Linked DNA regions of Homo sapiens: regions 1, 2, 3, 4 and 5 are each linked to region 6. Evidence: fine-mapped expression QTL. A gene starts in region 6. Each other region holds a variant in brackets. All regions are shown on one strand. Distances are between the middles of the regions.

What was found. PIP is the estimated chance that this variant, and not a neighbour inherited with it, causes the effect.
Region 1: its variant is the best candidate, but not a certain one, in a credible set for the expression of RAP1GAP2 in monocytes (Fairfax 2014, PIP 0.81).
Region 2: its variant is the best candidate, but not a certain one, in a credible set for the expression of RAP1GAP2 in thyroid (GTEx, PIP 0.59).
Region 3: its variant is the best candidate, but not a certain one, in a credible set for the expression of RAP1GAP2 in lung (GTEx, PIP 0.68).
Region 4: its variant is the best candidate, but not a certain one, in a credible set for the expression of RAP1GAP2 in lung (TOPMed, PIP 0.52).
Region 5: its variant is the best candidate, but not a certain one, in a credible set for the expression of RAP1GAP2 in whole blood (INTERVAL, PIP 0.71).

Annotation. Positions count from the first base shown.
Region 1 is chr17:3,032,534-3,036,617 of GRCh38, reverse strand. RAP1GAP2 (RAP1 GTPase activating protein 2) reads right to left here. Exons shown (of 25, transcript NM_015085.5): 25 at 1-3,226. Among named protein-coding and RNA genes, the nearest start is that of OR1D5, 29 kb to the left of the region's middle. The variant G/AAAAG (reference allele first, on the strand shown) is at 1,641.
Region 2 is chr17:3,002,834-3,006,917 of GRCh38, reverse strand. It overlaps RAP1GAP2 (RAP1 GTPase activating protein 2), which reads right to left. Exons shown (of 25, transcript NM_015085.5): 15 at 1,478-1,549; 16 at 877-963. Among named protein-coding and RNA genes, the nearest start is that of RAP1GAP2-AS1, 39 kb to the right of the region's middle. RefSeq lists enhancers at 2,950-2,999, 3,170-3,299. The variant C/T (reference allele first, on the strand shown) is at 1,873.
Region 3 is chr17:3,011,662-3,015,745 of GRCh38, reverse strand. The region is part of intron 17 of RAP1GAP2 (RAP1 GTPase activating protein 2); the gene reads right to left. Among named protein-coding and RNA genes, the nearest start is that of RAP1GAP2-AS1, 48 kb to the right of the region's middle. The variant CTG/G (reference allele first, on the strand shown) is at 1,762.
Region 4 is chr17:2,969,079-2,973,162 of GRCh38, reverse strand. The region is part of intron 8 of RAP1GAP2 (RAP1 GTPase activating protein 2); the gene reads right to left. Among named protein-coding and RNA genes, the nearest start is that of RAP1GAP2-AS1, 5.2 kb to the right of the region's middle. The variant C/T (reference allele first, on the strand shown) is at 1,998.
Region 5 is chr17:3,026,566-3,030,649 of GRCh38, reverse strand. RAP1GAP2 (RAP1 GTPase activating protein 2) reads right to left here. Exons shown (of 25, transcript NM_015085.5): 22 at 3,580-3,706. Among named protein-coding and RNA genes, the nearest start is that of OR1D5, 35 kb to the left of the region's middle. The variant T/C (reference allele first, on the strand shown) is at 2,509.
Region 6 is chr17:2,793,983-2,798,066 of GRCh38, reverse strand. RAP1GAP2 (RAP1 GTPase activating protein 2) reads right to left here and starts at 1,629. Exons shown (of 25, transcript NM_015085.5): 1 at 1,496-1,629. The coding sequence starts at 1,539.

The DNA.
Region 1 (4,084 bases), 240 kb before region 6:
CACTGAGGAATAGTTCACTGAATCCCTTTCCCTCCTCGTTTTCTTGGTTCAAGCTGCATCCAAAGCCCAAGGGTCCTCACTGAAAAATCCTAGAGACTATCCCCCCTGATGAAAAAGAGCAGAAACTGCAGCCTCACCAGCATCCTTGACTGCTCACCTCCATGCCAGTGCCAAAGCAGCAGCTAACTGGCTTCCCCAAAACCCAGGGCCCCAGGAAACGCAGCCACTTATTCAACCAACCATGTAGGCGCTGCAGAGGAAGGGACCCTGGGTTGAGGGTTCTAATCCCAGCTTTGCCAACAGCCAGCTGTGTGACCTCAAGCAAGTTACTCCCCTCACCTGGGCTAAGATTTCTCATCTGGACGATGACATGGTTGGATGAGATGCTAAAAAGAGCCAGCAGGCTTGTGTTGAGATGATGCTGACAAAGCTGAACCACTGAATCTTTTTCAAGAAACGTCATTTTACATGATTGGCATAGACAGACACTCTCATTAAGACCTTCCATCGCGAGCTTTTCTGCACCTGTTTTTAAGCGTCAACTGAGCTGGAGGCATATGGGTGACCCTACAGTGCCTGAAAAGTAGTTTCTTCAGTGAGTCAGGCAGTTCCCAGAGCCAGAGATGTGTCCCGGAAAACATCCCCTCGTGGAGATCACAGTGGAAATGCCTCAAACACCAGCGTGAGCACCATCTAGATGAGCCTAGTCACGAGGGCCAATGAGGTTTGGGCAAATCTTTGAGCCCCAAGACTGGGCGCAGCATAAAAGGAAAGACATTTTAGATCAGAGCAGATGTAGGGACAGCGTGGGGGAAACAGCCCTCCAGGAACCCGAGCTGCCCGCCCCGTGGTCTAGGGGAGGGAGGGGAGGCTGGGCCATCCTTGTTCTCCTCCTCCCTCTCAGCACTGCCCGGGTGGGCTGGAAGTGCACACTCTGGAAGCCACAGGATGGAGCTCCTAGAGATAGTGAGGCATGACCAGAGGGAAGAGGCATTTGGGGTCCTGTTCAGATCATTCCAACAGCAAACCGGGCATGGAGACCCCATCTCAGGTCTGTGCTTCTCTGGGGGCCACCCAGCCATCCTGCCCACCAGCTCAGAGGCAGGGACAAAGCCCTCCCAAGAGGCAGCAGGCAGCAAGGGTCAGCCAGCGCAGTGGGGACAGGCAGGTATGGGATTCCCAAATGGGACAGCATGGTGACAACCTGGAAACCCCAAAGGACCCCAGATGGCAATGTGACACGGCCCATCCACCAAGCACCTGTAATGCCGGCTTCCCACAGAGGCGAGCCAGATCCTGCAACTGTTCTTAAAGAAATGCAGTTTGACCTTGCCAGTGCCTCCAGAAGCCCAGCCAACAAAACGCGTCCAGAACGTACAGGCCTCTTTCCAGCCGTGGGGGCTGCTACGGTGACTCTTCATAAAAGCTAAACAGATATTTTGTTGACCTTCTAACAAGAATAAATTTTACTAGACTAGTACTTTAGAGAAAGTACTAGCAAAGGGAGAGCTCCTCTCCAGCTTGCAAACAGGACTCAATCATTCCCACACACGTGGCGGGGAAGAAAGATCACAATGTTGCTTGAATGGCAAAAGCTATAGGGAGAATTTCACAATGTCAGTTAAAAAAAAAAAAAAAAA[G/AAAAG]TGTAGTATTTATATCTTGGGCACAGGTCCAGATCCCTATGGGAATAAAGCATTCAGCTGGAAATCCTTGTCATTGGTCGTGGGGCAGGTGCCCAGCCAGTGTCACTCTGCAGCCCCGTCTGCACTGAAAGGGGCTCTTCAGGCTCGTTGTACCTGGAGGATGCCCACCTTAACCCCAACCCGGGCCCATCGGCAGAGAAGCCCACGGCGCTGCAGACTCGGAAGGGGGAGAAGCCAGGAGGGGATGTCCTTGGAGGTGAGCTGGCTGTCCCAGCAAGGGGGCTCTGTGGAGGGTGGGGGTGGCATGTGGGTCACAGGGTCTGACCCACACCCAGATGGGGTCCAGGTTGCAGAAACCCTTCAGATGTGACAGCTGCCTACAGACCCGCAGCTGGAGAGGGGAACAGGATTGGGGGGTTGAGCCCCAGACGCAGCTGCCCAAGGGCACAGTAGCTGGAAAAGGCCCCAGGGCCAGGCTGGGCCCCCCAAGACTCCAGGGGCGTAAGCTGCTGAGGGACACTGTGCCCCTTCCCCACCCAGGGGCCTGATCAGAACCCGCAAGTCATCCCCCCCTCACCTCTCTCCTCGAGTAAGTGGGGAGGGGAGATAACGACGTCTTCCTTGAACCCCCATTGTCAGCAGAGACCTGGGCTCCGGCCTGGCCCTCAGGCCCGAGGTTTTCCTCAACCAACACAGCAGCATCTCAGCACTGGCTCCTTTGCTCTCCCTGAATTCCTTCTCACTCCTGGCTTCCCACCCCTTTGTGGGAAAATATCTTCTCAAAGGGAAGAGACTGCCTCGGGGCTGCCCCTCCCTCCCCTCACCCCACAGCAGCCATAATCAGGAGAAACCGGGTGGGACCCAAAGTCCCCGCCTCAGTCCAGGAAGTGTGCAGCGCAGTTCTGGCCCGTCCAGCTCTGGCTCTGAGCTTGAACTGGCTGGAGCCCCGCTCACGGTACACTGGCAGCAGGGGCAGGGCAGCCCTGGGCCTACGTCAGCAGATGGGAAAGGCGTTCAGCACAGAAGCAGATAGACGGTTTAGAGCTCCAGAGCTACGGGGGCAATAGCGCCGAATTTTATCAGGATGGCCTCAAGGATGCTACGAATCTTGGCTCCTGGGAACATGGGGCCTCCACCACCGAGTGCGTTCCTGGTAGTAAAGCCTGCCACGTTCAGGAAGGCACTGCCCTGTGGCCAAGACCCTCACCGAGGCTCTGCTCCCACCCCCTACTCTGTCTCTGAGGCAGACCAGCTCCCCAGTCACTGCTGAGCTCCCCCCAGATCCCCCTTTGCCCGACACTTTTCCTCTCCAGGATGAATAGGATGATAAAGGACCCGGACATCACACTGGGAGGTCAGGAGCAGGAGGAACCTGAGGAAGGAGGCCTCGTCCAGAGATGGGAGGGGCTGGGAGGGCATGTAGGTGAGGGCGGAGGCAGGGCTGTGGCCAGACTGGGACACCTGGACCAACAGCACATCTGTGGGCACGTGGCCATGGGGCAGCAGGGCTGGGACTGTCAGGGTCGTGGACGGCACTCCCAAACTGCTGGTACAGGAGCCTTTTCCAGGACAGAAGAGGGGATTCCCTGAGGAGACAAGGAGGAGGCGGCGATGAGCGAACATTCCGTACAGGAAGGAGGGGACGACGCGGACGTCGGGAGCAAGGGGTGGGGAACACGCCTGCCCATGGCTACAGCTCACTGGATACACTCAGGAGCAGGAGGGCACCTGATGTAAGGGTGCCCCACCTTGCGTGGCCCGAGAAGCTGCGCATAGCCACGGCTTTGGTGGGCAGTGGCGTCCAGAGTGCGTGATGGGAGCCGGGGGTGAAGGTCCATATGCCCATTTGTCTTCTGCTTTTTCATAAATCAGGTTGAACACAGAGTGGGTTCGGTTGTACCCCTCCTCTTGGCTCCAGCTGTGACTCTGACCCCTGAAGCCCCATGTGGGGAGAGGGCTGGGAGCTCAGATGGGTCTCTGGTGACTTCCCCAGCAGAAATCCAGGCCTTGATGGGGGCGAGCTGGACCCACGGCCACTCTGCTCAAACCACGTGCCCCCTCAAAGCAGGCAGGGGAAGAGGCCTCCTGGGGTGGTCCCTCACAGTGCTGACTCCCGACAGGGAGGGAGAACACACCTCAGCCCAGGGCCTCCGCCAAAGACACAAGGAGGGAACAGCTGCCTGAGGGCAGGGGAGCAAGGGAGCCCTCAGGAACTCCTCCCTCCTGGGTCAGAAGCGGGCTTGGGCGACTCCCCTTCTGCCTGCGGGAACCAGACCCCATCGGTGGAAGGGAGGCCTAACTAGTACGTCTAGTCCAGTGTCACTGGGAACCCCCTTCCCATCCGCACACAGGCCATCTGCCCCTCCTTCCCCATTGCAGGTCTTCAGGGGCGAGTAGGAGACTCTTTGGACATCCCCAGCTGGCGGCATCTCTCCGGCCATTCT
Region 2 (4,084 bases), 210 kb before region 6:
TGACCTCCATCCCAGCCTAGTGCTGGCACACTGTACTATAACTATCTATTTAGTAATGACCCCCTGCCCCACCCCCCGACTACCCTGTGTACTCTCCAGGGATAGAAACTGTCTCACTTATCCCCATATCCCAGGGAACAGAATAGGGCCTGACACATAGTAGGTGCTTTAAAAATGACTGATTGGGCCAGGCGCAGTGGCTCACGCCTGTAATCTCAGCATTTTGGGAGGCCGAGGCAGGCGGATCACGAGGTCAGGAGATCAAGACCATCCTGGCTAACATGGCAAAACCCCATCTCTACTAAAAATACAAAAAATTAGCTGGGCGTGGTGGCGGGCGCCTGTAGTCCCAGCTACTCGGGAGGCTGAGGCAGGAGTATGGTGTGAACCCGGGAGGCAGAGCTTGCAGTGAGCCAAGATCGGGCCACTGCACTCCAGCCTGGGTGACAGAGTGAGATTCTGTCTTGAAAAAAAAAAAAGGACTGATTGGCCAGGCGCAGTGGCTCACGCCTGTAATCCCGGCACTTTGGGAGGCTGGGCCAGGCGGATCACCTGAGGTCAGGAGTTCAAGATCAGCCTGGCCAACATGGAGGAAACCCTGTCTCTACTAAAAATACAAAAATTAGCTGGGCGTGGTGGCGCACACCTGTAATCCCAGTTACTAGGGAGGCTGAGGCAGGAGAATCACTTGAGCCCGGGAGGCAGAGGTTGTGGTGAGTCCCAAGATCATGCCACTGCACTCCAGCCTGGGTAACAGAGCAAGACTCTGTCTCAAAAAAAAAAAAAAAAAAAAAAAAGATGGAGGAGCCCTGGATGAGGCTGGCTAACAGGTGGCCCAGCAGTCAGGAGGGAGACCTTCAGAAACCACACTCTCACCTCCAGCTTTGCAAACTTGTCCGACTTGCAGCAGGCGTTCTCGGCATTGGTGAGCTTGGTGAGCAGAAACTCCCTGAATTCCGGGCCCTGGAAGAGACAAGACGGACCTCAGGTCTGTCACTCTCGGCTGTTGCCAGAAGGTCTTCAGCCACAGTGACAGGCAGGCAGAGCCGGGGCCATGGGGAGAACCCCTGAAAAGTCCCTTCCGACAGCGGATCATTTCTAGCCCAGGCCAAGCCCACTTGCAAATATCCCAACAAGGAAACCCGCTTCCCTGGTCCTGGGAAGCCACAGTGGCACTTCCACGACTGGAGCTCATTCCTGCCCAAGGCTCCTTGACCGGGGCTCAACATAAAAGCCCGTCTTTCAGCAGAAAAGCAACCCCAGTGTCAAACACCCTGACAAGTGGTCCTATGCTGGGCCAGACTGGCAGCATGAAAGAGGTGGGGAGAGACCCCAAGAAAGGAGGTTCCCCCCAAAACCTGCAAAAGGAGCTCCCTAATGTTCCCAGCCTGAATTTGGCTCCATCCCAACCATTGCTACTCAAGCACTGAGACCTGGCATCGTGGATGCGAGAGGGGCAGAAGGAAGAGTGTCCTACCTTCTGGAAAACGGGGGGACTGGGCAGAGGTGGACCAAAGGTGGGCACATCTTCCCGCGCAGTGACAGAGACCTGAGTGAAACAGAGTCATGGTACGGACCTGGAGGGAAGAGACGAGCGCTGCCCCTACGGGAGCCACGCTCCTTACAAAGCTACTCACCTTCTCCCTCCTCCTCTTCCCAGAACACAAACAAAATACTCCTGTGAGCATCGCCAGCACAGGCCCTGACCCTGTTCCTAGAAGTGGGGCCGGACGGTGTGGGGCCATCCGCAGCCTCTCATCTGCATTCCTGGAGGCCAGAAGCAGGTTTGGCAAGATGACTGGACAGGGCTGGGACCCTAATTTTAATGCCATACAAGTGCCCGGGAGATGGCATCTCGTGACCTCATTCGAC[C/T]GTGACGCTAATCCTACTGAGAAGGCACAGGGAGAACTGTTCTCCCTGATGAGGAAACAGATGCCCAGAGACACACAGAGAAGCCCCCAAGTCCCACAGGTGATTAGCCGCAGAGGAACAGAGCATCCAGACCTCTCCCGACCCGTCTCTGGGGTTCTCTTCCCAAGCCTGACTCCTCAGCTCGGCCATAAATCAGAATTGCTTCAAAATTGCTTCAGGTGTTTAAAAATACAGACTGGGTTCATGGGCTCTGGCCTAAACCTGCCGAATCGGAAGGGTAGGGCCCCCCGGAAACTCTCGTGCAGCCGGTGGACCCGTGTTCGGGAGCCCTGGCCCCACACACGGGGTCAGCCAGTCCTAGGCCCAGGCTAGGAACTGAGGGTGGGGCGCGCACCTCTGGCACCCTGAGTGAGACTGAGCTTTAGAGTGACGGCCTCGAGGTTCGCTGCATGGGGGTCGCCCAGGCGTGGGACGGGCCCCACACCCCGCCTTCCCTCTGCACAGAGGTGCCCTGACTTCACCTATTCTCAGCCCACGAGGCTGTGAGGCTCTCGGGAGACTGCCCTCCCTTCCCTACACAGCCGCTGACGTGAGCCCAGCCCTGGCGTGCTGCCAGCCTCCCCGGCCTGTGAAGTGGAGCAGATGCAGAGTCTGCCAGGCCGGGTGAGCAGGCAGCTGGGCACCGAGCCAAGGAAAGGCCCTGCCAGAGTCCGGAGGGGAAACGGAGCGGGAGAGAGCTGGTCAATACGGGCTTTCTCTTCTCAAGCTCCAGGCTGTCTGCCCAGCCCAAACTGCAGTGCCCCGAGTCAGGAAATGGTGCGCGTTCGGCTGACGTGATTTCTGGCTGGGCTCCAGCAGCTGAACCCGGTTCCCTACCACCACCCACCAGGCACCGGTGGCCCAGGTCAAGAATTCAGTCACAGAGCCAGAATCAGGGGTGGGGGTGTGGGAAGGCTATGGGGAGACTGCAGACCGTGGGCACCTGGGACAGAGGCCAGAGGGCAGCCCCAGCTCTGCCCTTCCCACCCCACTCCCCCTCCTCCTCCAGCCTGCATTAGAGTGGTCTGTGCCGACCGTGTAAGTGGCTTCAGACACATCCTCAAGTCCATCCAACCCTCCAGCTGGACAGTCCCACAGCAGAGCCCTGTGGGCCACACGGAGGACAGGGCCCTTCCTTGCGACGTGCGTTCACCTTCCATCCTCATTGTGCGCCTCTCTTGACCCCATTCCAACCAGGCGGCCAGGCCTTTGTTGTTCCCCCCTCTTGGGGACATCTGGGTCACTGGACTGAAAGCAGAAGTTGCCTGAACACAGCCCCACCTTCCTGTTTTCTAAATGCAGCGAGGGCCTCCAGCGAGGGCTTGGAGGGAGGGAGAGAGGCAGATGCAGGTGACTCTGGGGAAGGGACCTGCATGGCTGGAAGGAGGAAGGAGCTTGGTGTGGGTCATGAGGATGCACTGGGAACCTCAGAAAGCTTCAAACGTGACAAAGGCCCCACGCCCAAGAGTGGCCTGGGAGCCGCGGTGGCACACAGAGCATCGTCCGAGCAACAGACAAGTCGTGACGGGAAACGGGGAGGGGGCTACAAAGACAGGGCCCTCCCCGGCGGTGGGCTTCACCTGAGATTCCTGACACCTTTGAGGACTTCCGGAGAGGGAGGCAGGGATAGGGGGGAGGGAAAGGGGTAGTCCTGGTGATGGCTGAGCTGGACTTTCCTTCCAAGCAGGCAGGATGAGGACTACACTCATTTCTGAAAAATAATCCAGAGTGATGCTTCGTGCACACCCGACTCCGTGGAGCCAATTTCTCGCCTGCTCTGATGGCTCAATGACCAAGACCGCAAGCAGACCCAGACAGGACCTCAGCCACAGCTCCCTGGCTCTGTGGCCTCAGGCCTTAAGTGGGTTCAGCTCTCAGCTTCCATTTCCTCCCTCTAGCGAGAGGTCTTGTCTCACCAGGGGCTTGTCAGGATTCAAGACTGTGCGTCTAAGGACCCAGCACCGTGCCTGGCATGAGCAAGCAGCTGGTAAGGGGTAACCACTGTCGCCCAGTGGCCTTTTCACTTCCCCTGCTGACCTGCACCCAGTAAAGGGCTCCTGAAATAGAGTTTCCCCAAAGCACCTTGCAACCCACCACACACACACACACCCAAGCACGCCTCCTTCCCTCCCGCAGGATGTCAGGGCTAGCAGCCTGCAGGTGTCTAATCCAA
Region 3 (4,084 bases), 220 kb before region 6:
TCCCAGGTTCAAGAGATTCTCCTGCCTCAGCCTCCCGAGTAGCTGGGACTACAGGCGCCCGCAACCATGCCTGGCTAATTTTTGTATTTTTAGTAGAGATGGCGGTTCACTGTGTTGGCCAGGCTGGTCTTGAACTCCTGACCTCGTGATCCACCTGCCTCAGCCTCCCAAAGTGCTGGGATTACAAGCGTGAGCCACCACGCCCAGCCTTGAGTCATCTTAGGAAGAGCTGGGTCTACAGCAAAGTGGTCCCAAGAAAATGGCAGGGCTGCTGCTCCTGACCCAAACAACAGGTCTCCCTGGGCTCTCTGGACGTCAGGATTTCTCCAAGCTTGGGAAGGGCAAAGAACCCCATCCTGCCTGCTTTTCTATCCTGACAAGGGATGCAGACTCAGGAGGGCCATTTGTAAACCGGACAGCCCCCTAGATGAGCTACTGACAGTGAGGTGTGTAGCCCACCAGCTTCATACCCCTGATTTGATCGGGCATCTCTTATCTGAGTCAAAGATGCCCCTGGAGGGACATCTCTCACTCCCTCTCTATACCATAGAACAGGGTCACCTAGCAACAGTTTTCCTACCGCATGGTTAAAACAGTCAGCGCGTTCTATTTACCCCGTCACGCAAGCATCATAAAGCCATGTACCCTTTGAACAACTGAGGGCAGGACAGGGGTGGTGGCACACTGAGGTGTCCCTGGAGGAGCGGCGAGCTTCCTTTTTTAAAATAAATAAATAAATAGAGACAGGTTCTTCCTGTGTTGCCCAGGCTGGTCTCAAACTCCTGGGCTCCAGTAAGCCTCCTGCTTTGGCCTCCCAAAGTGAGCCACCAAGCCTGGCCGCAGCCAGGTTCCATGAATGAGTTAAGTGCTCCATAAATCTCAGCATCTCGGCCAGGGGCGATGGCTCACGCCTGTAATCCCAACACTTTGGGAAGTGGAGGCACGTGGATCACCTGAGGTCAGGAGTTCGAGACCAACCTGGCCAACATGGTGAAACCCCATCTCTAATTTTTGTAAAAAATACAAAAATTAGCCAGGCATGGTGGTGTGTGCCTATAATCCCAGCTACTCGGCAGGCTGAGGCAGAAGAATTGCTTGAATCCAGGAGGCTGGGGTTGCAGTGAGCCGAGATCGCACCACTGCACTCCAGCCTGGGTGACAGAACGAGACTGTCTCAAAAAAAAAAAAAAAAAAAAAAAATCAGCATCTTTACATTCTCTTGGTGCCCTTGTGCGTTGACAACACCATCATCAATCATGACATTCCAAACTAATCATTTATATTCTGCAATCCAGTCCAGCACCACACAATGACACTGCAGTCAACAGACTGCATAGATGACACTGGTCCTATTAAGATTCTAATACTATATTTTTACTGTACCTTTTCCATATTTAGATGTTTAGTATACAAATGCCTGTCTTTGTGTTACAATTACCTACAATATTCAGTAAAGGAACCTGCTGCACAGCTTTGTAACCTGGCAGCCACAGGCTCTATAGCCGACGTGTGTCCTAGGCTCGACCATCCAGGTCTGTGCTGGCAGCCACGCGCCCTATAGCCAACGTGTGTCCTAGGCTAGACCATCCAGGTCTGTGCTGGCAGCCACACGCTCTATAGCCGACGTGTGTCCTAGGCTAGACCATCCAGGTCTGTGCTGGCAGCCACGGGCTCTATAGCCGACGTGTGTCGTAGGACGTATTCCCGTCATTTCTCAGGACGTATTTCCCGTCGTTGAGTGACACGTGATTGTATTCCTCC[CTG/G]TCTCTTTCCCAGAAAGGATTCCATGTGGGAAATAGTAACTCCTGTGTAACAGTATCTGGTCTCATGAGCTTCACATACAAGATCTATTGAATCTCTACAATTCTGAGATGCAGAGAGGACAGGCATTGGACAGAAAAAGTTCTGAAGGGTAAATTATTGCCCAAGCCCACATAGCAGGTAAGAGATAGAGCCAGGATCCAAACCCAGAACCCTGGGCTCCAGATAAAAGGGTCCCTGTATATTAAAAACTGGTCCAGGTTGAAAATACAATTCAACTGGTGGATGACTGAAGGATGATTAGAAACCACGAATTTTCAAGGCTCCCACCAAAAAAAAAAAAAAAAAAAAAGAAAAGAAAAGAAAAGAAAAACTCAGAGGCTGGTGTCAGGGAGGACACTGGCTCCTCAATTAGTCCTGGTGCAGCCGCCGGAGTCAGCAAGGTAAGTGTGAGGAGGCGGCAGGCTGGGTAAGTGTGAGGAGTCAGCACCGGGTCTTCTGTCCCTCTAGCGGGGCAAATGCAAGACAGATGCCAACTCTGCTCCAAGAGACCATGACTCCGACCCAGGAGTGGAGCAGGGCCAAGCACAAGGCCTGAGCTCTCTCGTGGACCCCCAAAACAGCGGGGCCATCCTGACATCACAACTCCCCATCAGGAGGAAAAGGAGGGGGCAAAGACGCCAAAGACCAAGGATTCTTGGCGGGGCCCTGCTGTGCTCCACCTGCCATCACTGGCACTGCTAGGGGGACCGGCTTACAGGTACCTCCCTGCAGGTACTGCGGGGCCACAAAGACTGCCAGGGATAGCTGTGGCCCCTCCTGCCACTAGGGGTCAGGTCAGACCAAGGCATGAACTATCACAGTCCCTCAAAGGCTGGGAGAAATGAACCTGGCAACTCCCAGCTTGCCACGGTCCCGGGTCCATCACAGCCAGCCCGGCAGCCTTCTCCTCCCCGGTCCTCTGCTCCACCTCTGTGCGATGAGGTCAGTGGAGGGCTGGGTGAGCTCAGCATTTCTCAAAATGTGGCCTGCACGTGCTCTACGTCCATCTGACGTCGGTACAGCAAGTATCATCACTTTTCATTGCATTACGGACCAATAACAACCTCATCAACAGCTGGCAGTAACTGAGAATGGCACTGGAAAATGGTCTAGAGATCAGCATCGTTCAAACATAACGTACAGCTCTTTCATCGTGAAAGCTGTTCTCGCAAGACTCCCGAGAATCTGCTCACAGACCCCCAACCCCAGTGGCCCCATGGGCTGCGTATGCAGTGCTGACTTCAGGCCTTACCTATTTACCCTATAGGAACATCTCTTAATTTGGAGTGATCACTGCAAACTTTAGGTTTGTTTTTTTTTTTTTTTTTTTTTTTTTTGAGACACAGTCTGGATCTGCTGTGCAGTGGCGCAATCTCAGCTCACTGCAACCTCCACCTCCCAGGTTTGAGCAATTCTCCTGCCCCAGCCTCCCAAGTAGCTGGGATTACAGGTGTGCACCACCACGCCCATCTGATTTTTGTATTTTTAGTAGAGACAGGGTTTCACCACGTTGGCCAGGCTGGTCTCGAACTCCTGACCTCAGGTGATCCACCTGCCTCGGCCTCCCAAAGTGCTGGGATTACAGACGTGAGCCACCGCGCCCAGCCAAACGTTCAGTCTTTATAATTGGAAGGTTTTTTTTTTTAGATCTAAGTGAAAATGCAAACTTTAGAAGTGTTTGTAGAACCAGCAGATTCCTGAGACTATCTCCAAGCAGTTCAGCTTGAAAAGTAGGTCTAGATGTCCAAAAGCCAACTGTTCTGTGTCTCATGGGAGAAACGCTTCCATTACAGCTGGGAGGACAGAAGTGAGCTGTAAGGAACTGCTCCAAGCGGGGTGAGGTGCCAGGCGGCACAACACAGGGCAATGGCAGGCCTGCTGCTCAGGAGAAAGATCAAGGGTCAGTGCTGACGTGGGGGAGCAGCAGCCTCACCAGGGGCAAGGATGGATGGCTGAGATGGCTTTCAGCCCTGGGGATTCTCAGTTATGCTCCCATCAGCCTGGGAAATGAGAACTTTGACAGGAAGGAGGCCGGGCGCAGTGCCTCACGCCTGTAATCCCAGCACTTTGGGAGGCCAAGATGGGCGGATCACCTGATGTCAGGAGTTCAAGATCAGCCTGACCAAGATGGTGTCCCTACTAAAAATACAAAAAATTTAGCCATGTGTGGTGGCGGGCACCTGTAATCCCAGCTACTCGGGAGGCTGAGGCAGGAGAATCGCTTGAGCCCGGGAGGCAGAGGTTGCAGTGAGCCGAGGTCGCACCACTGCACTCCAGCCTG
Region 4 (4,084 bases), 180 kb before region 6:
GGATAAAATCTGAGCTCCTAAACATCACTGGTACAGGATCTAGCCTTTTCTTACTTCTCTAGCATCATTTATCAACCCTACACACACTCAGACACACCCTCCACATTGCCTTCAGTTCTCCCTCACCACCTACGTCTCCCATCAGCCTCACTAGCCTATAATGATCCCTGTCCCTAAGAAGAAGATGATGAGTAAGACCGAGAACAGAAACAAGAATCTCTAAAACGCAGTGCATTTGGACTGAATGCCTTCTATGGGCAAGTAGCAAGAACTCATTCCTCACAGTATCTCTACAACCAGACAAAGTCCGGCATATATTAAGCCTTGGGTAAACAAACACTGAATGAATTTCCTAATATTAACCATCCTGCATTGGTAAAATAACTCTTTCTTGGCTATAGTGAATTACTCTTATTAGTCTATTTAGATTTGAGTTTCTGGGGCTGCTATTTTATTTACAACATTGATTTCTACATTCGTAAGGAATATTGGCCCCTACCCTTTTTTTGCATCTCATTTGACTGATTTTATTCAAAAAGATCCTTTTTTTTTTTTTTTTTTTTTGAGAAGGACTTTCACTCTTGTCACCCAGGCTGTAGTGCAATGGCACAAGCTCGGCTCACTGCAATTACAGGTGTGCACCACCACGCCCAGCTAATTTTTTTGTATTATTAGTAGAGACAGGGTTTCACCATGTTGGCCAGGCTCATTTCAGGTTTCACTCATGTTGGTCGTGAACTCCTGACCTCAGGTGATCCACTCGCCTTGGCCTCCCAAAGTGCTGGGATTACAGGCGTGAGCCACCGTGCCCAGCCCATAAAGCTCTTTTAAGCATTATTAATTGGGAAGCTTTCCATATTTTTTTTTCTTTTCTCTTGAACAGTTTAAATAACATAAAATCTGCTCCTTTAAAGTTTAAAACACCTTCCTGCAAGACCATCTAGATCTAGAAACATTTGAAGAGATAATTCTTTGAGAACTTTTTCAATTTCTTCCACAGTTACCGGTTTGTTCAGGTTTCTTTTTTACCTCATCTTAAGTTACATTTGGCATACTTTCCTAGAAAGGCATCTGTTTCAAATAAAATTTCAAATAAAATTAGAAACAGAAGCAATTTAATAGCATGAGTTGAACACAGCATCCATTAGTAATCATTTAATCTTCTTCACATCTGTGGTCATGCATCTTTTTATGACTAATTTTGTATATTCTTATTTTCTCTTCTCATCTATATTCGACTAGCTAGTTACCTATCTTATTGCTTCTTCCAAAAGAAACCTAGGTTTATCAAGTCTCAAATTATTTTTATTTCTAGTTTATTTATTTCTGCTTTAATCTTTGTGAATTCCTTCCTCTGGCTTTCTTTAGGTAACAATATTGATAATAATAATAGCCACCATTACTGAGCAGCTGCAGCATGTAAGGTCCTCACTCACCAGGACATGTAAGCACTCAATAATTTCAAGGTACATGCTACCATCATCATTTCACAGATGAGGAAAATGAGACACAGAGAAGTTGCTAACAATAATAACAACTTGCAAATATCACTCTTATTTTTATTTTACTGTATTATTATTATTTTTATTTTTGTAAAGATGAGGTCCATTCTATTGTTCAGGCTGGTCTCGAACTCCTGGGCTCAAGTGACCCTCCTGCCTCAGCCGCCCAAAACGCTGGGATTACAGGCATGAGCCAACACACCTGCCAGTTCTTTTTCTTATTTAATAGGAAACCATTTAAGGTAATAAATTTTTTTCTAAGTATTGCTTTGAATACAACCCATAGGTTTTATGTATAGTATTATAAATGTCATTACTTTATAAATATTCTGTAACTGCAGCTTCTATTCCCTTTGGCCTAAAAGCTACTTAAGAAAGTATTGGGATTGTTTACTTCTCAGTGGTTTAGTGGTTTTTTTAAATCATTATTTTGTTATTAATTGCTAGTTTTATCATCAAATTGTAAGTGAATACATCCAGCAGAGAGCTTGCTCT[C/T]TGAAATGTATTTAGTTTTACTTTGTGGTTCAGAAGTTCCTAATTATAGCTGCTATCGATAATTACCTACAAGTAAGTTAGTTACATAGGTCGACTGATTGATGGATTGATTGATTTAGTTTATTTATTTAAAAACAGGGTCTTGTTCTGTCACCCAGGCTGTAGTGCAGTGGCACAATCATGGCTCATTGTAGCCTCGACCTCCCAGGCTCAAGCAATCCTCCTGCCTCAGCCTCCTGAGTAGCTGGGACCACAGGTGTGTGCCACTTCACCCAGCTAATTTTTTTTTTAAGAGATGGGGTCACCCTGTGTTGCCCAGGCTGGTCTTGAACTCCTGGGCTCAAGTGATCCTCCCGCCTCAGCCTCCCAAAGTGCTAGGATTATAGGCATGAGCCACTGTGCCTAGCCAAGATTTTAAAAAATAGAATCTTAAATAACAGCCCAATTTAAAAAGAAGCAAAGCTTATAAACTGTTCATAGCAAATAAATAGAGGCAGTTCTTAAATATATGAAGAGATGTCCAACATGATTCATATTAAGATTATAAATTTAAACAACACTAAATACTATTCTCATCTATCAGACGGGCAAAAATCCAAGTGTTTGACAATACATTCTACTGAAGAGGCTTTGGAATAAGAAGCACTTTGATACATTACTGGTGAAAGTTGGAATTTACACAGCCCCTACAGAGGGCAATTTAACGTTATCTATCAAAATACAAATGCATTTATGTTTTAACCTAGCTATCTCATCTGAGAAACTATCATAATCCATAAAAACTGAGTCTGCACAAGGTTATTCATTTAATCATTATTGTGTTACCAAAATATTGGCAATGGTCATTAACAAGGGACGTATTATTATTATTTTTTTTTTTTTTTTTTTTTTTGAGACAGAGTCTCACTCTGTCGCCCAGGCCGAAGTGCAGTGGCGCCAAATCGGCTCACTGCAACCTGCGCATCCCGGGTTCAAGTGATTCTCCTGCCTCAGCCTCCCGAGTAGCTAGGGTTACAGGTGCATGTCACCACGCCCGGCTAATTTTTGTATTTTTAGTAGAGACAGGGTTTTGCCATGTTAGCCAGGCTGGTCTTAAACTCCTGACCTCAGGTGAGCCATCTGCTTTGGCCTCCCAAAGTGCTGAGATTACAGGCGTGAACCACGATGCCCGGCCCAGGGGATGTATTAAATAAATTATTTCACATCCATGCAATGGAATACCATCCAGCAGTAAAATAAATTAAGACATTCTCTATATGCTAATACGGAAAAATCTCTAAGATACATTGTTAAGAGAAGCAAGTTACAGAATTCTACAGAATCCTGTGGAAATAAGGAAGGAAATAAGAATATATATATTTAGGCCAGACGCGGTGACTCACGCCTGTAATCCCAGCACTTTGGGAGGCAGAGGAGGGCAGATCACCTGAGGTCAGGAGTTCGGGACAAGCCTGGCCAACACAGCGAAACCCCATCTCTACTGAAAATACAAAAAAATTAGCCAGGTGTGGTGGCATGAGCCTGTAGTCCCAGCTACTTGGGAGGCTGAGGCAGGACAATTGCTTGAACCTGGGAGTTGCAGGTTGCAATAAACCAAGATTGCACCACTGCACTCCAACCTGGGCAACAGAGCAAGACTCCATCTCAAAAAAAAAAAAAAAAAAAAAAAGAATATATATATTTACACATCTTTACATATCTTATTTATTTATTTATTGTGTGTGTGTGTGTGTTTCAAATGGTTGGGTTGGAGCCTAGAAGTCTAGGTTTTGGTTTTTGTTTGTTGGGCTTTTTTGTTTGTTTTTGCTTTGTTTTACTTTGTTTTAAAGATCCAAAATGATTCTGATGTAGCAGGTCCACAGAAAACCACTGATCTACTATGCAATCAATTTGTGTAAATATTCCAAAGGCAATTGAAAAGAAGTAAAATCTGTTAGAGGATCAAAGTCTGATAGTTAGATACAGAAACAGATATATATATATATAGATAGATAGATAGATAAAGAAAAATATGTATATAATTGATATTGAGATGAATAAATGTCATTTCTAACCCTAGTATTGATATGTCAAGTGATGTGTGTTAA
Region 5 (4,084 bases), 230 kb before region 6:
AAATTCGTCACTTCCTACTTATTTTTCTCTGTTTTACGATTATCTGTGCTCTTACGTCTATTGTATCCATGTGGTAGAAACACCCTAAAGATGGTGGCTACAGTATATCTTCTTCCCAAGTCCACGTTCGAGGACATCACGTCAGTAGCTTGAGATCAGCCACGACAAGTGTATTTACACCACAGAAACTGGTACATGCTACAAATCATGACTTGATTGATTGTTTTGTTGTCTAGACTTAAGGAACTAATAGAAAAAAAGGAATTTACATGAAACTTCAAAACATGCTGTGTCTGCAGCGATTACATTGTGAATAGCACAAAAGAAAACTGAGGAAATATCCTTCCGGGGTTTGAAAACTTTTCTCGGATACAGCAAGGAAATGACTCATGTCACTGACGAATGAAGTTCTCTTAATACAAAATACTCATGGCCGGGCGCCATGAGAGTGAGTGTGTGTGTGTGTGTGTGTATAATATATATTATACATATGTATATACATATAACATATAATATATATGTATATATAATATATACATATATGTATATTATGTGTATCTATAACATATGTATATTATATGTATATACTATATATGTATATATAATATATACATATAAAATACTTATTAACAAACATGGTAATATCAGTCCACATTCATGTCAGAATTACACACATTCATCTCCTGCAGCCTTAAGTTGGCTACAGATAAAAAGGTGAAGCAAACACCACTAAAAGCATTCTGTGAGAATCAGTTGGACATATGGGACTTATGGTAAAGAATATTATCTAGTATTTGTACACTGGGTTTGACATCCATCGTATAATAAAATTCCGTTAAGTGTGTGTGAGTGGTGGCAGAGCCCGGTGTCAACATTTCCCGCTGTGCCCCGCTGGCAGGAGGGCCACTTGACTTTCTGGCTGTCCTCTGGCCGAGGGTATGGAAAGCTTAGTGCAGCCTTCCTGGAAGCTGCTGGCTGGTTCGTGGTGCTTCGAATCGAGGAGTTCCACCCAGGGCTACAACACCTCTGTGTAACCTATCAGTCCTCTTCTGTGCCCCAGGAAGCCCAGGTAGGAAATGACCATGATCAGATATCTGACATTATGGAGACTGTACGTCAGGACGTCAGGCCACCTCTCCCCACTCCACCCTGCCTCTCCCCAGACTCAGCCAAACAGCATGAAACCGGTTCCCAGATCCCCCCAAGCCCACCCTGATCCAGTGGGTACCAAGCACATCTTTCGTGGGCTGGGGGTGAAAAGCAGCCCATCGGGGTTAAATACTGTGTGGAGAAAAGGTGTGTAAGAGGCAGCCTCACCGTGTGGTGTGGGAAGCACCGGCCATAAGTCACCAGACCCGCTCCAGGTCCCTTCCGCCCTCGGTGACCTTCAGCAACCTGCAGAGACTCTCTAATTCCTTTACTCAAAACCTTCCTTACTTTGACGTTTATTTAACACCAAGTGGGGGCCAGGCTTGCTTACAGATTCTTTCATTCATTCCTTCAATATTTAAGTCTTATTTAGAAAACAAAACAAAACAAAACAAAAACACCAGGTCAGGCGCGGTGGCTCACGCCTGTAATCCCAGCACTTTGGGAGGCCGAGGTGGGTGGATCACGAGGTCAGGAGTTCGAGACCAGCCTGGCCAACATGGTGAAACTGTGTCTCTACTAAAAATAAAAAAATTAGCCGGGCATGTGGCACATGCCTGTAATCCCAGCTACTTGGAAGGCTGAGGCAGGTGAATCACTTGAACCTGGGAGGCGGAGGTTGCAGTGAGCCGAGATTGCGCCATTGCACTCCAGCCTGGGTGGCAGAGTGAGACTCCATCTCGAAAAAAAATCAGGGAATTTGTATTTCCACCCCCTTTTACAGATGAGGAAACTGAGGCTCAGAGACGTGGACCTGTCAATGCTACAACCAGGATTTGAACCCAGCTCCGCAGCTGCCCAACCACAGGGGGCTGAATGAGAGGAGGCACGTGAACTCTTCCACTCACTGAGAAACACGCATGCAAAGGGTCACTGGCTGTGGAATCACGATCTTCCCTTCATCTCTGACCCTGCAGGTTCCCTTTGCAACATCCCTTCGCTGTGTGAACCCCAGGAACATTTTGGCTTCAGCCACCCTGAAGGCCTGTTGGCCCTTCCTGTGTTTCTACCATTGAGACTAGAGTTTTTCAACCGAATGTCATTTGGGGTCAGAGAATTATTTGTCTGATGTGGCTAGGGGGCTGTCCTGTACATTGCTTATCAGCTTCCGTGACCTCTGCCCACTAGATGCCAGTAGCACCCCTCCAAAATTGTGAAAATTAAAAATGTCGCCAGACATTGCCAGACATCCATGGGGTAGCAAGACTGCCCCCGGCTCAGAACCGCTGACTACACTATTGTCTCATTCCCATTCTTTAACCAACACCGAGGTTAACAGTTCCAGGCCTCGTACAAGCATGAGCTCCTTTCATCTTCATACAACCAACCCTCTGAGGCAGACACGACTCTTCCCCTCCC[T/C]TCATTTTCTGCTTGGAGAAACTGAGGCACAGACAGGCTTGGTGACTCGCCCAATGACATGTCTAGTAAGCAGCAGACCCAGGATTTGGACCCAGGCTCAAAGTCCTGTGCTGCCCTCACGAGGGCAGAGACCCGGAGCACCCGCCCAGCAGTGCCCACCGCACAGGTCTACCTGAACGGCCCTCAGGTGCTGGCCCCCCTATTCTGACCAACTGCAGGGATCACAGAACCCCAAAACGCCCAGACTCCTGCTCTCTCTGAACCCCTGCTACTGAGCCCGTACATTTTACCTCCTTGATCTCTCCTGAACCGAGGTGCTTCTGCCGCAGCTCCCCTCCCCTCCTCTCCCCTCCCCTCCATCCCTCCCCTCTGCTCCTGCTCTCTACTAATCCATTCTACACTCAGCAGCTGCAGCAGCCAAAATGGACTTTCTCAACTCCAGATGGTGCTTCCCTACTTAAGAACCTTCAAACACTCCAACAGTGGCCGCTAGCAGAACAAAATCCTCACCCGGGGCCCGGGGCTGACCCAGCCTGTCAACGCTCCGGCCTCTCTGACGCCTGGCTCTGTGAACCCAGCTGCCATGAACACGTGCAGTTCCGGAATACCCGCTCTCTCCTCTCCTCTGGGCCTTTCCACATGCTGTTCCCTCCCCCTGCAGCCCTTCCCCCGTCTTGTATTATCAAGACCCCCGACATGACAGACGGGCCCTGGCAGCCCTGGAGCGCTGGCAGGTGGGGAGAAGGGTTGGAGCACTGGCAGGTGGGGAGAAGGGCTAATGGAAAGTGCTCAGCTTTCCCACTGCCAATCCCGACTCCTCCGCTGTGGGATCTCCCACAAGGCCTTCAACTCTCTGCCTCAGCTTCACAACTCTCAGTGTAAGAAGAGCTTAGGAACTTGGGCATCTTAAGGCTGATGAACAGAAGAGGCGGGCGCACAGAGCGGAGGGCCTCACAGCTGGGAGGAGGGGTGAAAACTGGCCAGTTCAGCGTGGCTGGGGCCCTGCTAACAGTGGACAGGGCACAGCCTGCCCTCCTGGTGACGTCACACACACCACCAGATGCCACTGACCTGTGGGACTCCGGCTCATGATGATCGGGGTGGCAGCTGCCCCCAGGCTGGGGCTCTCGCTGCTCGGGGACGGGCTGTAGACAAACACCTCCTGCTTGAAGGGTGAGGTCGTGGACGGCTGGCTGCCCTGAGGAGAGAGGCAGGGTGAGCGAGGCCAGCCCACCCTCGGCAGCTGCGCCCACGCAGGCCTGAGGCAGCCCCCAAAAGCCCAGGACAGCCGCTGCCTCCTGCTCCCCACTTGGGCCTGCTCTTTCTTTCCTGCTGACTTCAACCCTGGTTCCAAGCTATCCTGCTCCAAGAAGGACCTTTGACCCAGCCCCCTGGGGCACTGGCCACTCACCACTCCAGCCAGGAACCCCAAGGCAGGGCACCATCGGGTCTGGCCCCTGCCCTCTGCTGCTGCTATGTCACTCTGAGAGAGAGGTCCCCTCACCCACTGCGCCCAGGGGGTGGTGATGGCCAACGAGCCCACCTCTCGTTTCCATTCTTCCCCTTTCCTCTGCAA
Region 6 (4,084 bases):
CCAGATTCAAATCTCAGGCCTGGCTTTGCCTTGTGCTCTGGAGCTGTGGGTCTCAACACAGAGGGCTTCATATGGAATGAAGCTAGGCTGAGACCGGGACCTGTGCACCCGGAGCTTTCTGGCGACCAGCCTTCCATCTGCTCCACACCTCCCAGAGAAAGGCGGGCCTTGGAGGGCACAATCTAATTGCTGGGCCCTGCCCTGCAAGGCCCACAGCCAAGACACACACACCCCTCCCAACCAGAAGCCAAGTCCTCTGCTGCCTCCCGGACACTGGCACCTACCCTCGGGGTGGCAGCTCCCAGATCCAGGCGTCAGGGAGGGCCCGAGAGCAGACACAGGCGACGCTGTGCCATCTTCTCATCCGCACCATCCCATCTGCCAAACATGGAGTGCCCACAGTCCCCCCCTGCCAGAGGATGGATGGCAAAGTGCTTTTGAAGAGGAGGAAGAGGGAAATAAGCCACACACACGGAAGCGAAAAATTACCGAGGAACACAGCCCCTCTCCCCCTCGCCCTTCGTGCCACCCCCATTAGTCCACCATTTTCCACACCGGGACACCCCCCGGCCACCTCCCGCGGGGCCCTCTCCCAGTCTGACAACGCCCCCAGCCCAGGCACTGAAAGGAAACCGATCATGAAAACCACCAGACTCTGTTCCCCAGCTGCGAAGAAGCTGCCAGCACTGGGAACCAGAGACAAGCCTTTGGCCTTCGTGTGCCTACCTTCTGCCCCCCGCCGGGAAGAAAAAGCACATCCCTCATCCCAGACAGAAGCTTAGAGGCAAGAGTGTCCAGAGGGCCAGGCAGGAGGCTGGGGACAGATGCAGCTGCTCAGGCTAGGACAGAGCTAGGGTGGGCTGCCTGGGGTGCAGGTGGGAGACCTTCTCTCACAACCCACCCCCAAGACAGCAGGCAGCCCAGAGGTCCAGCAGGTACAGACTCCCCTGCCACAAGGCCACAACAACAGCACAGACAGGAGCATCACACACACAAACACGCAGACACAAGCACACACAGACACAGAAGGCCAGAAGTGCAGACAGGCAGCTGCCCACATGCACAGGCACACACCTCACACACGGTCACACGGACTGGCAGTCACAGCCACACACACACGCCTGCACACACAGGCTCAAACGCGCACACACACACTTACACATAATCCCAGACACGCACACACATACATGGGAACCTGCGGACACAGAGACACACACATTCAACTGCAGTCACACTCATGCTATCCACCTCCCCACGGGCAGCCGGCGCAGACCTCCAGGATTCGCCAGCAGATTGTGCCCAGGGACAGTGGGGAAGGCTTACGGTCTCTGATGTCCCCACCAGGATCCTGCATCTCGACCTGCCAGGGCGTCAGCAGACCCAGCTCTCAGGCACAGCCCGAGCCCCTCTGTTCCCACGGCCGCCAATGCACTTAACAAGACTTCACTTCTAAGTTCTCTCCCATCATTCCCCCACCCTCCCACCTGTCACCCACCATCCGAAGCCCCCAAAGGAGACACTGCGCTTCCGGCCAAACATGGTTGTGGCTGCAGAGCCCGGGGTCCCAGCGATGTCCCAACGACGTCCCCGGGGCTGTCCGCAAGAGGGCCGTGGTACAGCGGGGTCAGTGCCGGTGCAGGGCGGGGAGCCCAGCGTGGCACCTCCCTCTTCGCCTGCCCCCAACCCGAGCTTCCTGTGGGTGAGGCTGCAGAGCTGGGAGGTGTGTCCTGCACTCCAGGAGGCACCAAGATAGGCCGAGGAGGTTGTGGAGGGCAGCTTCCCCACACCCAGAGGAACCCACAGCTCCGGAAGGGGCTCGGCTGGCAGATTGCTCCACAGCCCCAGTTAGCAGCCCGGCCCACACAGCCCCAGCTTCCTGGAACCCAAAGGCGCCCCAAGGATTCCCACAGCCACGCCTAGGAGGGACAGAAAGATTCAGCTGGAAGCCTCAGGGACGCCTGAGCACTGGGGACCTTCACACCCACTCCCGAGGGCTGCCTGAGACAGGGACCTTTGCCTGCCTGCCCCACCATGGCTCGGCACACGCCAGAGGAACCAGCCACACACATGTCATTCCACTAGCACACGTGGATGTAAGTATACATGCACACGCATGGGCACAGGGGCACGTGGGATGCACACATGGACACACACACGCCCAGGATACCCAGGTACACACAGATACATGCACGCAGACATACGTATCATTAGACACCTGTACACACCTGAGCACAGCGCGGCACACACGCTCCCGTGCACATCCACACACCACTTCACACAGGCATCAGTAGACACACCTGCACACGCTTCTCACATACTGACAAAGCCCCATTGGACACGTGCACAGACATGAACGCATACACATGTGCCCGCAGGCACTCATCCACATACTCAGACCACATCACACTGCAAGGGGCATTCGCATGTACACACACATGGGCACAGAGCTGTACCTGTCAGCCGCCCCCCACCCCCGCCGCCAAGTGTCTAGACAGAGGTCAGAGCAGTGGCATGCTTCACGCTGGCTGTGTGGGGTGGGGGGGCGGTACCCATGTGCGGGTGGATTTGTCTTCCCAGCTGAACCGCAGGGTTCGTCCTCATCTCTGCATGCTCAGGTGCTGGTCCTCATGCCACAGGGCTAGCGTGTCCTGCACGCATCCCAGTCTGCACACCACAGGGCCAGTGCTCATCTCTGCACGCACTGGTGCTGACCACACCTGGTACACAGCAGGCACTTACTAATGGCAGCCCCTCAAAGGGATGTGGCACGTACACTACAACAGACACTGGGGGGAGTGGGCACAGATAGGGCCCCAGGCCCCACCCTACCCCCAAGCAGTGGAGAAAGGGAAGAAAACGTCTCAAAAAAAAAAAAAGAAGAAGAAGAAAGGCCGGGTGTGGCGGCTCACACCTGTAATCCCAGCACTTTGGGAGGCCAACGCGGGTGGATCACCTGAGGTCAGGAGTTCGAGACCAGCCTGGCCAACATGGTGAAACCCCATCTCTACTAAAAATACAAAAATGAGCCAGGCATGATGGCAGGTACCTATAATCCCAGCTACTCTGGAGGCTGAGGCAGGAGAATCGTTTGAACCTGGGAGGCAGAGGTTGCAGTGAGCCAAGATCATGCTGTTGTACTCCAGCCTGTGCAACAAAGAGCAAAACTCCATCTCAAAAAAAAAAAAAAAAAAAAAAAGGAAAAAAACGGCCCTAGCTGGTGCCATTGGCCTCTCTCTCTGGCCAACCCTCCCTGAAATTTCCTCTCTGGCACCTGCTGCCACTGTGAAGGTCCTAGACTCCGTGCTGAGGTGCCAGGGGCCAACCCCAGCTTGTGGACGAAGGGTACAAGGATTTCTATTTTCTTGACTCCTTCACAGCAGGGGACAGCACAGGGGCCTCAAGCCCTGAGTGGGCTGGGGGAGCAGCTTCAGGGTCCTGGGCCAGAGCAGGGCTGGGGGCTGACTCTCTACCTCCAAGGCAGCTAGTCCCCAGCAGGAGCCCGGAGGCTTCCCCCAACCCTCACCTCTGCCCCAGGAAAGTTAGGATTGTGTGGTTCATGCTCTGGGGTGGCTTCAGGCTGCTGGCTTCCCACAGGATGGCCACTGCAGAGTGCCACAAGCGCCTCTCTCCCCAGAGGCACCCACCCACACCCAGGAAGTGCTCAACAGGTACCGTGGACAACTTGGGTCCTGCCTGCCCTGCCTCCATCTGAGAAGAACCCTCTGCACTCAATCCACCTCCAGGGTCAGGAGTGGGCACCTGACCAGGCCTGGCCAGCCAAGGGGACTGGTTCAGGAGACCTAAGTAAACCCAACAAGACACCATCCCAAGAGGCTTCCCCTGCTGAAGCATGAGATGAAAGCCTGGGGCTGTGGAGAGTGTGGGGAAAATGAAACCGACTCACAGGAAGGCAGAGAAGAGAACTGACAGAGAAAGGGAAAGAGGAGAAAGATCATGTCTTTTTTTTTTTTTTTTTTGAAGAGTCTCGCTCTGTCACCCAGGCTGGAGTGCAGTGGCACGGCTCACTGCAACCTCCACCTCCCTGGTTCAAGTGATTCCCCTGCCTCAGCCTCCCACATATCTG